Linked DNA regions of Homo sapiens. The protein of the gene in region 2 purifies or fractionates together with the protein of the main gene of each other region. This does not show direct contact. Each region holds a gene or a part of one and is shown on either strand. Other genes may lie near its edges.

Region 1 (3,621 bases), on a different chromosome or scaffold from region 2:
TGGTGAAAACATGAAAACCCTAGGTTCCCTTCAAGGGGAGAGGCCAGTTATATTTCAGCTAAATTTTAGTAGCTGTTTATAGGTATTTTACTTGAAATTGCTTGAAGAAAGCACCTGAGACCATAGATGGGCATTGGAATAAGTATGGCATCTTTTTGGCCAAAAGAAACCTAGCTAGGTCGGGTGCGGTGGCTCCTGCCTGTAATCCCAACACTTTGGGAGGCCGAGGTGGGCGGATCACTTGAGGTCAGGAGCTTGAGACCAGTCTGGCCAACATGGTGAAACCCCCATCGCTACTTAAAAAGAAAAAAAAAAAGAAAATAGCCGGACGTGGCGGCAGGTACCTGTAATCCCAGCTACTCGGGAGGCTGCGGCAGGAGAATCGTTTGAACCCACGAGTCAGAGGTTGCAGTGAGCTGAGATCGCGCCACTACATCCAGCCTGGGCGACAGAGCAAGATTTTGTCTCAAAAACCAAAACCAAAAAAAAAAAAAAAAAAAAGGAACCTGGCTAATGAATTCACCTACAAGTGTGTTATACTTGCCATTACTTGCTTGCCTTATTTGTTTATTCATTATTTACGCCGTGGTAAGTGTGGAGTTGCTCAAGAGCACAAATTCAGATGGCGCCTCCGTAGACTGTATTTCCAGTGTTGCAGTTCAGCGGACTGGCTGCGTCCGAAATCAGAGACAAAGTTAATACAGATTTCAGGGCCCTCGGCTTACAATTTAGAATCTCTGGGGACTGGAGCGCTTAACAAGCACTGCAGGTGATTCTGATGTTCAGGTAGTTTGAGAACCATAAAACGAAATGGTTTTCTACCTAATACGTGGATGCGCATCAAACGTTTGCTGACCATGTGAATGGAATCCTCAAATAGTACATGATTTCAATTTAGATGTTTCTTCACAGAAAACATCTGTGGAATGCTTATCACTGGGAACCACATTGTATGAATTGTAGAGGCTTCCCTTCTAATCTGCTCTAGGACGGTGATCAACTATGATTTCCATTCAGCAAATACTGATTCAGCCCCTTTGGATAAGTAAATGGGAAAACTGTCTTTTGACCTAGCCTCTCTCCTGGTACCTAACCGCTGTAATGTGGCCCTTGAGCTCCAGGCTCATTTCCAGACCTGCTTTTTTTTGTTGTGTTTTGTGTGTTTTTTGAGACGGAGTCTCACTCTTTTGCCCAGGCTGGAGTGCAGTGGCGCGATCTCGGCTCACTGCAACCTCTGCCTCCCAGATTCAATCGATTCTCCTGCCTCAGCCTCCCAAGTAGCTGGGAGTACAGGTGCACACCACCATGCCCAGCTAATTTTTGTATTTTTAGTAGAAACGGGGTTTCACAATGTTGATAAGGCGAGTATCGAACTGCTGACCTTGTGATTCACCTGCCTTGGCCTCCCAAAGTGCTGGGATTACAGGTGTGAGCCACCACGCCCAGCCTCCAGACCTGTTTTTCTTAATGGAATTGAGATTATCTCTAGAATTGCTTTTTGGGTTTTTTTGTTTTTGTTTTTTTTAGATGGAATCTCACTCTGTCGCCCAGGCTGGAGTGCAGTGGCGCAATATCGGCTCACTGCAACCTCCGCCTCCCGGGTTCAAGTGATTCTCCTGCCTCAGCCTCCCAAGTAGCTGGGACTACAGGTGTGCGCCACCACATCTGACTAATTTTTGTATTTTTAGTAGAGACGGGGTTTCGCCATGTTGGCCAGGCTGATCTTGAACTCCTGACCTCAAGTGATCCACCCGCCTCAGCCTCCCAAAGTGCTGAGATTACAGGTGTGAGCCACCGAACCCGGCCAGCTCTAGAATTGTAAAGAAAATGGCCAGGGTTGCCTCCCAGAAACTCCATAGAGTGGGGTTGCATGCAGACAAGAGAAAACTCACAGGTTCCAGGATTTAAGTTAGTAAAACCCCCAACTGTTGAGCAGCTAAGGAGTTAAACTAGAAATGTTGGATTTGTGATTTGGGACACTTTCCAAACCAGCTTCTTGGTGGGGCCGTTGAATCATTTGTATATCTATCTATATCAAAATCAGTTTTATCACAAAATGCCAGAACATCTACTACAAATTAGTAGCTAAGTCAGGCAAGTAGTGACAGCAAGCTGCTTCAACAGGCAGGGCTGAGTGAATGCCTGCTTTTTGCCTTTGACACTCACGAATTGGCCCTGAAACTGAGAGCAAGTGGTCTACTCTCCCTGTTTATCAGTTTCAACATCTTTATTGTAAAGTATTTGGAATAATAATAGCTGATCAAGCACCAAGCTTGGCTGTGAGCCTTCATAATGGATATCCACAATGATTTCACGGGCCATTCATATGCTTTCTTTCAGGCACTGGCTTGCCCGGGAATATGTGTGGTTTCTGATTCCATACATGATCTATGACTCGTACGCCATGTACCTCTGTGAATGGTGCCGAACCAGAGACCAGAACCGTGCGCCCTCCCTCACTCTTCGAAACTTCCTAAGTCGAAACCGCCTCATGATCACACATCATGCGGTCATTCTCTTTGTCCTTGTGCCAGTCGCACAGGTATGGCCTTCCAGGACAGCAGACCAGCAGCTGGGTTGAGCTGGGTGTCTTTTTTTTTTTTTTTTTCTGAGACAGTCTCACTCTGCCGCCCCAGCTGGAGTGCAGTGGTGTGATCTCAGCTCACTGCAACCTCCGCCTCCCGGGTTCAAGCGATTCTCCTGCCTCAGCCTCCTGAGTAGCTGGGATTGCAGGTGCCCACCACCACGCCCGGCTAATGTTTGTATTTTTAGTAGAGATGGGGTTTTGCCATGTTGGCCAGGCTGATTTCAAACTCCTGAACTCAAGTGATCCGCCCGCCTCGGCCTCCCAAAGTTCTGGGATTACAGGCATGAGCCACTGCGCCCGGCCTGAGCTGGATGTCTTGACCGTTACTTAGGAGTCGGGATTGCCCCTCTTTTCTTTGCCACTCATAGGCACCCATTCTCCTTGTGCCTGCTGCTTCAGAGCCACCTCCCCCAGGTGAATAGTGGAGGAACACCATTACACATGAAACGTTCATGATCCTCCTTACCAACATCAACATCAACATACTTTTTCTTTTTTGAGACAGGGTTTCACTCTGTCACCCCGGGTGGAGTGCAGTTGTTGGATCACAGCTCACTGTAGCCTCAAACTACTGGCCTCAAGTGATCCTCCTGCCTCTGCTTCCCAGGAAGCTGGGAACACAGGCACACACTACAACGTCCAGCTAATTCCTGTAATTTTTGTAGAGTTTCTCCATGTTGCCCAGGCTGGTCTCAAACTCTTGGACTCAAGTGATCCTCCTGCCTAGGCCTCCCAAAGTGCTGGGATTACAGGCGCGAGCCACTGCACCCGGCCCCAACATTCTTTTTAACAAACCCCCAGCGCTCTGTGATTCCCTAGCGTTTGTCAGAGGTTCTATCCTTAGTTCAATACAAGATAAAAACAATATAAAATACAAATATAATACAAAGCAACATAACAGTGCCAGAGAGCACTGTGTGGATTATTCTTAGGTCACAAAACACAGATTCTCAAAGCAAATAGCCTCCTACTTTCTCCCCAGATCCATTTCCCCATAAAAGCCCACCCAACAAAGAAAAGCAATGGGAAAGCTG
Region 2 (2,334 bases):
AGTGAAAGACACATTAGCACCTCCCCCTACAATGAGGCACCTAGCTAGACAACTTGGCTGTCCGGGCTTAACCTGCGTGGCAGGGAAGGACGCCTGCCCAGCCTTAGCCTCTACGCAATGGTGGAGGCAGGGAGGGAGAGAACCACACAGCTCCCCTCATTTCCCAGCAGCCCCCATGGAGCCTAGTCAACAGGGTGTGGTCACAGGCTAAATGAGCAAAGATGTGAGCTAATATACTGGTAGGTGTCATGGGGGCTTTCAGAGCTGGGTAAGGAGGGAAAGAGATGGAGATACTGGTTCCCCACTCCTTAACCTGCCACCTGCCTTCCCTGTCCTTTACCCTCCCTCATTCTGCTGGACCTGAGGAAAATGCAAGGGAGGCTAGGCCTAGTGGCTCATGCCTGTCATCCCAACACTTTGGGAGACTGAGGTGGGAGAATCACTTGAGCCTAGGAGTTTGAGACCAGCCTAGGGAACATAGTGAGACCTCGTCTCTACAAAAAAATTTTAAAAATAGGGCCGGGCACACCTGTCATCCTAGCACTTTGGGAGGCGGGCAGATCAGCTGAGGTCAGGAGTTTGAGACCAGCCTGGCCAACATGGTGAAACCCTGTCTCTACTAAAAAAATTAGCTGGGCATTGTGGCATGTGCCTGTAATCCCAGCTACTTGGGAGGCTGAGGCAGGAGAATCTCTTGAATCCGGGAGGCAGAGGCTGCTGTGAGCTGAGATCACGCCACTGCACTCCAGCCTGGGCAACAAGAGTGAAACTCTGTCTCAAGAAAAAAAAAAATAGCTGGGTAGGGTGGCATGTACCTGCAGTCTCAGCTACTTAGGAGGCTGAGGTGAGAGGATCAGCTGAGCCTGGGGAGGTGGAGGCTGCAGTGAGCCAAAATCACGCCACTGTACTCCAATCTGGGTGACAGAATGAGACTGTCTCCAAAAAGAGAGAAAGCACGGGGAAGTGCAAGTGCATTGATGTGGAGCTGGGCAAGGACTTGGTTTAAGGAGCTGGTGGAGCTGGCTGAGGCTGCAGCCCAGGGAGGGGAGGAGAGTGCAGTGAGGTGGGGGAGAAGTATGCCTGGGCCGTGGAGGGCGGAGGAAGGCCAAGTCTCCACTACCTCTGTCCCAGCTTCCCTGCTGGTGGCTCTACGGTTGCATCTTCTCTCCTTATCCCCTTTCTCCCTCCTATCTCTAACCCAAATCACTTTCTGTGCTTCAGACCCGTAATTCCAGTTGCCCAGTGATATCACAACCTGAGAGAGATCACAGGCAAGCAAAAAACACTCAAACGTGTGTAAAACCAAACTTTCATCTCCACCTTTCCGTGTTCCACCTCTGTTAAGGGGGACAGCAAGCAGCTTGAGGCTAACGCTTGTTCTTTGATGACCTCCTTTCACTTCTCACATCCATCAGTTACAGGGTTTTTCAATTGTGCCTCCATAACTAATTCTTAAATCCTCCTTTCCATCCCTTCTCCATGATCCATAAGCTCAAGTCCATGCAAATGGCAGACAAAGCCCTCCTCACCTTAGCCAGCCTTTCATGCCTGTGCTCCTCTGGCGCACCCAGGCCTAGACACTTCCCTTCCTTGCCAAGTGTCTGATGATCACTACTTGGTCTTTATTTGCTCAGAAGCCTCATCCTCCCTCTGAAGCCTTCTCCTTAGAACTCAGTCACTCCTCCATTAGCGCTTGCCACACTGTCCTGGAACCGAATACACGGATGCCCCTCAGACCACACAGAAGAACCATATCTTACCATCTTTTCATGCTCCCTGCACTTAGCACAGTCTCAGTAAGTGTGTGTCAAGAGGGAACAAGAGAGAATGGGTGGCAAAACTGGACAGTGTCTTTTCTGTGCAGACCTTTGGGTTGTGAGGTTGTGACAAGGTCTCCTGGAAGAGAGAGAAGGTCCACGCCCCTCAGCCTCTATTCTTCCAGGCACTAATGCATTGGTTTCAGCGGTGAGATAACATATATGGAAGCTAAATATAAACAAATGGGTTAACAAGCTCTTGTCTCTTTCAGTAATCTCAGGGGCGATATAATCAATGAGGTGGTCCTAAAGTTGCTCAAGGCTGGATGGTCCCGGGAAGAAATTACGATGGAACACCTGGAGCCCCACCTCCAGGCGGAGATTGTGGAGACCATAGGTGAGTAACTGACTCAATATGCCTCTGGTGAGAGCCACAGCTGGTGATAATTAATGTGTTTGTTGGAATGTGTGTTTATGAAGCAGACAGGGTACTTGGGAACACAGAGGGCAGACTATAATCATCTCACATTGTCAACCCTGGGTGGGCACAAGAAAAGTGGTAAGAAAGCCTGAGCTC
Region 3 (3,621 bases), on a different chromosome or scaffold from region 2:
ACCTTGTGGTGGTTATTGGGTTAGAGAATGTGTTGGTGCTCACCAAGTCTGTGGTCTCAACCCCGGTAGACCTGGAGGTGAAGCTGCGGATCGCCCAAGGTAACGCAGTGGGAGAGTTGGGCAGAGGGCTGCAGGAGGGGCTGGAATGGGGCCTGTTCCTCTTGCTGTTAACGCTCTGTGAGCAAACAGAGCCCTTGAAATGTCCCTTGCTCTTGCCTCCGGCATAATATGCAGTGGGCCACTGGGCCCTGGCAGCTCTTGAGTGTGTGCCCTGGGGAGCCATGGGGCCATTGGACTGTACTTCGTCCTGGTTCATGTGTCAGTAAGAAAGTAAACCAGGCTGGGTGCCATGGCTCACACCTGTAATCCCAGCACTTTGGGAGGCTGAGGCAGGTGGATCACTTGAGCCCAGGAGTTCAAGACCAGCCTGGGCAACATGGTGAAACCCCATGTCTACAAAAGATAGAAAAATTAGCAGGGCATATTGGCATGCACCTGTGGTCCCACCTACTCAAGAGGCTGAGGTGGGAGGATTGCTTGAGCCTGGGAGGTCAAAGCTGCAGTGAGCCGTGATCACACCACTGCACTTCAGTGTGGGTGGGGCTTGTGTTTGGTGGTGGCTTTCTGTCTGGGGAGTTTAGCGCCTAGTATTTTCTCTTACTGCCTCACTCCAGCACACTAGGCCCAAGCCCCGGGGGCTGGCCATTTCAGAGACGCTGCCTTCACGGCTGCCAGAAAAGCTCCCTCTGGCCCTGCTGGTAGAAACTGGGGATCTGGGGTTCTAGGGAAAATGAGAAAAGGGAGAGCCTGGCCTTGGAGGCCTGGTCACTTGAGCCTCTTCTTCCTCGTCACCCCATGTCTGTGAGGAATGGGGCTGTAGGCAGCCGTCCATTCATCCAGACCTCTGTGAGCCTCTGTGATAAGCCAGGCCCTGTGCTGGATATGGAGTTAGGAAGAGATGGGGCGAAATTGTCCTTACCCAGTAAGAGCACAGAGCCTTAGACATGCGACAGTGTGATAGCGTGGGATCAGGGCTCACTACAGGAAGGGGCTTGAGGAAGAACGCAGCCAGGTCCTCTACCCGCCGAGTGCTTCTGCCATGTGGTTGATGGGCACACTGTCATGCTGGCCCGTGCAGACCAGACAAGAACCACATGCGGAGGTTGGATGTGGTTGTTGTGGGTGGCACTTGGCTTTCCTTGTGGATTTTCTCATCTCCACACTCTGCTTCTTCCCTCTTTTGATGATTATAGCTCTCCTCTGCACCCTCCAGGCTGTGAACACCCGTTCCCCGTAGCAGCTGTGTGGTGGTGATGGCCCCTTAAAGTCTGGGCATTAGCAGGACCCTGAGGGTTGGGGTGCTTTGGTGGAATGGCTCCTTCAAAGGGCTGGGGGGCCTTGCCATGCCTCTGCCACTCCGAGGCCCATGAGGTTGTGTGAGTCATGTCGCAGAGTGGCCATGTGTTGCCCTGTGCCCTGTTGCTGCCCTCTGCAGGCCTAAGCAGCGAGAGCTGGTCCATCATGAAGAACATGGCCACGGAGCTGGGCATCATCCTCATCGGCTACTTCACCCTAGTGCCCGCCATCCAGGTAAGGCCCCAAGGCCTGCCACCTGGATGAGCATGGAAGCAACTGCTGTGCTCCCCAGCTGTGCAGCCATGGGCAGGGTGCTCCCCTCTTCAGCACAGGCATCCTTGCTTCTGAGGTGGGACCTCTTTGCCTGGCAAGCAGATCACTACAGCACCCAGATGGCCCCTGGCATGCCTGGCTCAGAAGTGCTCAGCAAACCCTGGCTGGGTTCCCAGATTGAGCACCTAGCCAGGCAGACTCTGCCCTTGACCCTGTCTTCCTACCCCTCCCTGCCTGCTTCCCTTTCAGCCAAGTGGCAGGAGGAGGCTGCAAGGGCATGGCAGGAGCTGGGGACTGGCTGTGCAGTTTGTCACACCTGTTTCCCATTTTTGAGGGAGAAGCACCGTGGGGTTCCTAGACCCTTCCTCCGGTCTCCTCCCTTGGCCCTGGCCTGTGCCGCAGTCGCCAGACGCATGGCCTTGCCTGGCCTGACCAGTGGGAGGGCCACCACCCATTGCCCAGAGTGACCCTGCTCTTGGCAAAGTGCCCTCACTCAGCTGTGGGCTGTGAGCAGAGGTGGAGGTGGCCCTGCACTGAGCTGGAACCCCAGACTGATGCCAGCCATTCCAGAAGGAGTTGCAGGAAGGGGAGGATGCCATCTTTTCTCGCCCGTCTTTCCCCCAGGGCTGGCAGGCCAGCTGAGGGATGGGGGTGAGCAGAGAACAGATGGGCTGTGGGCTGCTTCTCCTGGAAAAACAGTAGTATCTGCAGGATAGGGTACAGTCTTGGGACGTTAGAGCTGAGACAACCACTGTGCCACTATCTGCACTCCATGGTCTTACCCCAGATCGGAGTAGCACTGTGGTGATGTGCTAGAGGTCTCAACACCGACATCTCAGAAAATTTTGTCTGCTGACAGAGCTTGGGGAGCAGAGAGCTCACCCTTTTTCAGTTTTAGAGAATTAATCCCTCTCTCTCTCTCTTCATTGTTCCGGGGCAGTTGCTGGCTGGGAACCTTTCTGAGAGCCCCTGAATCAGGCCTGGGCTCTAGCTGGGTTGGTGATGCATGAGCAGGGCGGGGGCTCAGTGGGGAAGGACTTTTTGGGGAGCAGGCTGGTGGGGCTTAGAGGTTTCCGGGTTGGATCAGGCCTTCAGTCCCCTCTAGAGGGACCGGAAGATTCAGGGAAGGTACTTCCCCTTCCCTTTCAGCCCTTTCTGAAGAAAGTGTGAGGGTTTCTTCTGCCCCCTGGTGGAGACGGGGTGAGCTGCTGCTGGTATGTGAGCTGAGGACCAACCAGCATCTCTCATCTCTGCTGTGCCCTGCCTGCTGCTGCCCTGCCGGTTATGAGGTGGCTGCAGTCCGGGTACTGCTCCTCTTGGGCTGGGACAGTGAGGTCACGGCACCCCCCCATCCCCATGTGCTCTGATTCCAGGAGTTCTGTCTCTTTGCTGTCGTGGGGCTGGTGTCTGACTTCTTCCTTCAGATGCTGTTTTTCACCACTGTCCTGTCCATTGACATTCGCCGGATGGAGGTAGGAGTGGGCTGAGCCCTGCCCTGCCCGCCTCCTCAGCCCTGGCTGTACTGAGGGAGTCCTGGGTGAGAAGGGTGTAGACCTCGGGCAGGACAGCGGTCCTGTGCGAGCAGCCTCTGGATGGTGGACTCAGGCCCTGACCACTGTGCCCCCAACAGCTAGCAGACCTGAACAAGCGACTGCCCCCTGAGGCCTGCCTGCCCTCAGCCAAGCCAGTGGGACAGCCAACGCGCTACGAGCGGCAGCTGGCTGTGAGGCCGTCCACACCCCACACCATCACGTTGCAGCCGTCTTCCTTCCGAAACCTGCGGCTCCCCAAGAGGCTGCGTGTTGTCTACTTCCTGGCCCGCACCCGCCTGGCACAGCGCCTCATCATGGTACCTGCCACCCCTGCCCTGCCCTGCCCTCTTCTGGAGGGCCGGTGCTCCAGGCCCCTTGTGGTGCTGCACTTGGCCTTAGAGTGGCAAAGGGTATTCCTCAGGCCCTGGTGGCCCCTGGAAGCCTGGCTCTGGGGAGTTGC
Region 4 (3,621 bases), on a different chromosome or scaffold from region 2:
TAGTATTACTTGACCTTTAACAATTTGCTTGATTTGATAATTTTAGTGCCACAGCATAAGTATACAATGAGATAATACCTATAACAATTATAGTTCCTAAGCATATATACAGTGTGACTATGCTGTTCCTTAACTGTTAGTTTGAGGCAACTAGGATACAAAGATTATAATGAAGATAGTGATGATAGCAAGAAATTACAGATTGCTTACTATATGCATTTTATATATATTAACTCAATATGACTCACTTAAGTAGGATGACTATTATCTTAGTTCACTGAATATGGAAGTGGCAATGGTCATTTGAGACTTTATTCTCAGTAACATCCTTGTTTTCATTTGGATCTGACTCAAAGTTTGTTCTGTCTCAGGCTGTAAAATCAAATTACATAAATATAGGGAAGAACACAGAATAAGTAGGTGCCATGGAGCTTTCCTAACTTGACTTACAAGACAAATGAGGAGACTATGGAGATGAAAAACCAAAAGATACAAAAGCATGACTTAGAAAACTGAACTAAATATTTAAATTTTAAAATGTGTCACACTTAATTCCATAGTAAGCATTACATGAACTGACATTTAAATTCACCTTTTTGTTGATATTTTCTGCCATCCATGGGCTACCAAAATACAGAACCCCATGCTGGGAACATATAATACTCGCTCGGCAACAACAAATCCAACTGGAAAAAAAAGGTTCGATGCAGGAATAAATGGTAATGCCATTAAACAAAGCGCCTACAAAAAAAAAAAGAAGATTTAATAATTTATAATAAATTTAAAATAATTTATAATAAATTAAGAAATATATGGGCATCTGATACTTGAATCCAAATATTTTATCATTTAACCTGGATAGTGTACTGCTAAACTATTTTTAATAATACTGTGAAGAATATTAATTTAAACATAAAGAAGGCAACTTAGACATTAACAAACATCAGGATGTACGTAAGCAAGGTGAAATGGAAATCTTGAATTCTAAAAGTTAAAATTAGAGGATATCTATGAACTTTGAAAACAAGATTTCTAGGTGTGTTTGGGAGTGATTACTCCTTGAAATTAAAATCTAAACCATTACAGCATTTTAAATTTGAGAAGCATAATTAGCTATATCTCACTGGTTTTCTGTAAAGAATATGCTTGCATAGTAAAATATAAAAACTTTAATAAATGTAAATATTCACATCTTTAAGCAAAAATTAAACAATAAAGGTTCATCCAGTTAAATAGTGGAAGTACTTTTTGAAATTCTATCTAAAATAACACACTCAAACAATCATAAGAAAACAACCCAATTTAAAAAATGGGCAAAGTAGCTAAATAGATATTCCTCAGAAGACAACATGCCAATGGCCATCAAGTATATAAATGTTCAACATCACTATCATTAAGGAAGTGAAAATTAAAACCACAATGAGATGTCATCGCACACCTGTAAGAATGGCTATTATCAAAAAGTCAAAAGATAACAAATGTTGGCAAGAACGTAAAGGAAACACTTGCACACTGTTGGTGGGATGTAAATTAGCATTGCCATTAAGCAAACAGTAGGAAGGCTTCTCAAAAAATTAAAAATAGAACTACCATGTGACCCAGCATCCTCACTACTGGGTATAGATCCAAAGGAAATGAAGTCAGTATGTTGAAGAGAGATCTGACCTCCCCTGTTCATTGCAGCATTATTCAATTTACAATAGCCAAGATATGGGAACAACCTAAGTATCCATCAACAGATTACTGGATGAAAAAAATGTGGTACATATACACTTTAGAATACTATTTAGCCTTAAAACAGAAGGAAATCCTGTCATTTCTGACATGGATAAACCCGGAGGACACCATGTTAAGAGAAATAAGCCAGCCACAGAAAGACAAACAACGCATGATCTCACTTGTATGTAGAATTTGTAAAAGTTGAACTCACAGAAGTACAGTACATGGTGGTCACCAGGGTTGGAGGGAGAAGGTTGGGGAGAGGTTGGTCAAAAGGCATAAAACTTCAGTTAGGAGGAATACAAATTAAATAAATAAAAATTTTACACATCTAACTTATGTGCGTGTGGTAAAAATAAGATGATAATGAAATATGCTAATAGGTTTTTCAACAAAACAAAACCACAAATGCTGATTAAAAAAAAGCTAAACATGTCAGTTTTTACAACTTTACTACTTTAAGAAACCACATGATATTGGAAACTGAGGGAATGAAATCAGGTGTCGTTCAGACAAGATAGCAGACTACTGTACCTTAGCATTACTTCACATAACATCCTGAAAGGTTAAATGTATTTAACTAGAAGCTTAGTGTATGCATAAAAATAAAACTGCCCCCCTTTAAATCAACAGTCTTTCATTCTACAAGAATTTCTAAAATTATTAATATAACACTGAACATTGAAATGAAACATCATAAAAATGTTTAGATTTCTTACCATTTTGAAAATGGGATGACATGTGGTTTCCACATTATACACCCATAAAAAACTAGCACATAAATAGCTTGTGAAGGAAATAAGTTTGGTCGTTATTAGGAAATCTGTTTCTATGGACATCTGCTTCCATATTTTGTTACCCCGATTTGTTTTACAGTACTTAATTGAATAAACAAGTTAAACCTTTAGCTTCACAAGTTTGAGACTCTTCTAATGGGCTAAGGTGAAAGAATGTCCTTTTTTTCTATTTGACTTAATTTGTGAAATATAGAGGTGTATACATTGAAAAGAATACTCTCCACAAATGTTCACACATTAATGATTTGTAATAAGGCAACACTGAATCTGAGGAAAATCACTACCATCAAACTGGTCACCATCATACCAATTTATAGGTCTGACACTTCAGTTTTTTTAAATCAAAAAGGTAAGAATAACTAAGAGTGCATAGAATTCACTTTCCATTTCCCAGAGATGCTTGACAAAAATAATCAGCAAAAAATGTGAAACAGATAAAGAAAAGTTCCTGAATATGTATGTAGTTCATTGAAAAAAAAATTATACCTATTAATTCATGGCCGCCCCAAGGCAATTTCACTTGAGGGAATTAAGTGTTAAATTCACTCAAAAGTGTATTGTAGACTGATGCATAAACTATACAAAACAAAAAAAATCTCTCAGGAAAAATCTATAGGTTCTGGGATAAGAAATGTCTCTAATGATTAACTTATTCACAGGTCCTAATATGCTCTCTAATAATGTATGCCAACCTAGTTAACTATCACTCTCTTGTAATTTCCTTCTTCCAGTAGCATAAACTGTCCTTAAATGTTAGGATATTAGTAGAAAGAGCAAAGAGTTCGAGACAAATCTGCTTTACTTCTCATTTCCTACATACGGCAAACCACTCAGTCACCTCCAGAGTCTTTCTTTCTTTTTTTCTTCTTCCTTTTTTTTTTTTTCTGACAGGGTCTTGTCTGTCATCCAGGATAGAGTATAGTGGCATGATCATAGTCTACTGCATTCTTGAACTCTTGGGCTCAAGCAATCCTCCTGCCTCAGCCTCCCAAACACCTAGGACTACAGGTATGCACTACCATGCCTGGCTAATTTAAAAATTTTTTTTAGAGGTGGGATCTCACTGTCTTGCCCAGGTTTGTCCCAAACTCCTGGCCTCCAGTGA

What was found. Proteins that work in one complex are often made in the same cells at the same time.
Region 1: the proteins of TOR3A (region 2) and TLCD3A purify together in Homo sapiens (affinity purification with mass spectrometry; one large-scale study listed by BioGRID and IntAct). This does not show direct contact.
Region 3: the proteins of TOR3A (region 2) and SCAP purify together in Homo sapiens (co-immunoprecipitation; one large-scale study listed by IntAct). This does not show direct contact.
Region 4: the proteins of TOR3A (region 2) and TMTC3 purify together in Homo sapiens (co-immunoprecipitation; one large-scale study listed by IntAct). This does not show direct contact.

What each region holds. Positions count from the first base shown.
Region 1 is NC_000017.11:735,506-739,126, forward strand, and holds part of TLCD3A (TLC domain-containing protein 3A), read left to right. Parts: intron 1-2,340; coding exon 2,341-2,542; intron 2,543-3,621.
Region 2 is NC_000001.11:179,092,064-179,094,397, forward strand, and holds part of TOR3A (torsin-3A precursor), read left to right. Parts: intron 1-2,029; coding exon 2,030-2,154; intron 2,155-2,334.
Region 3 is NC_000003.12:47,420,411-47,424,031, reverse strand, and holds part of SCAP (sterol regulatory element-binding protein cleavage-activating protein), read left to right. Parts: coding exon 1-99; intron 100-1,495; coding exon 1,496-1,590; intron 1,591-3,002; coding exon 3,003-3,101; intron 3,102-3,259; coding exon 3,260-3,478; intron 3,479-3,621. UniProt on the Homo sapiens protein: Escort protein required for cholesterol as well as lipid homeostasis.
Region 4 is NC_000012.12:88,169,717-88,173,337, reverse strand, and holds part of TMTC3 (protein O-mannosyl-transferase TMTC3), read right to left. Parts: intron 742-3,621; coding exon 593-741; intron 373-592; exon of another isoform or gene 249-372; intron 1-248. UniProt on the Homo sapiens protein: Transfers mannosyl residues to the hydroxyl group of serine or threonine residues.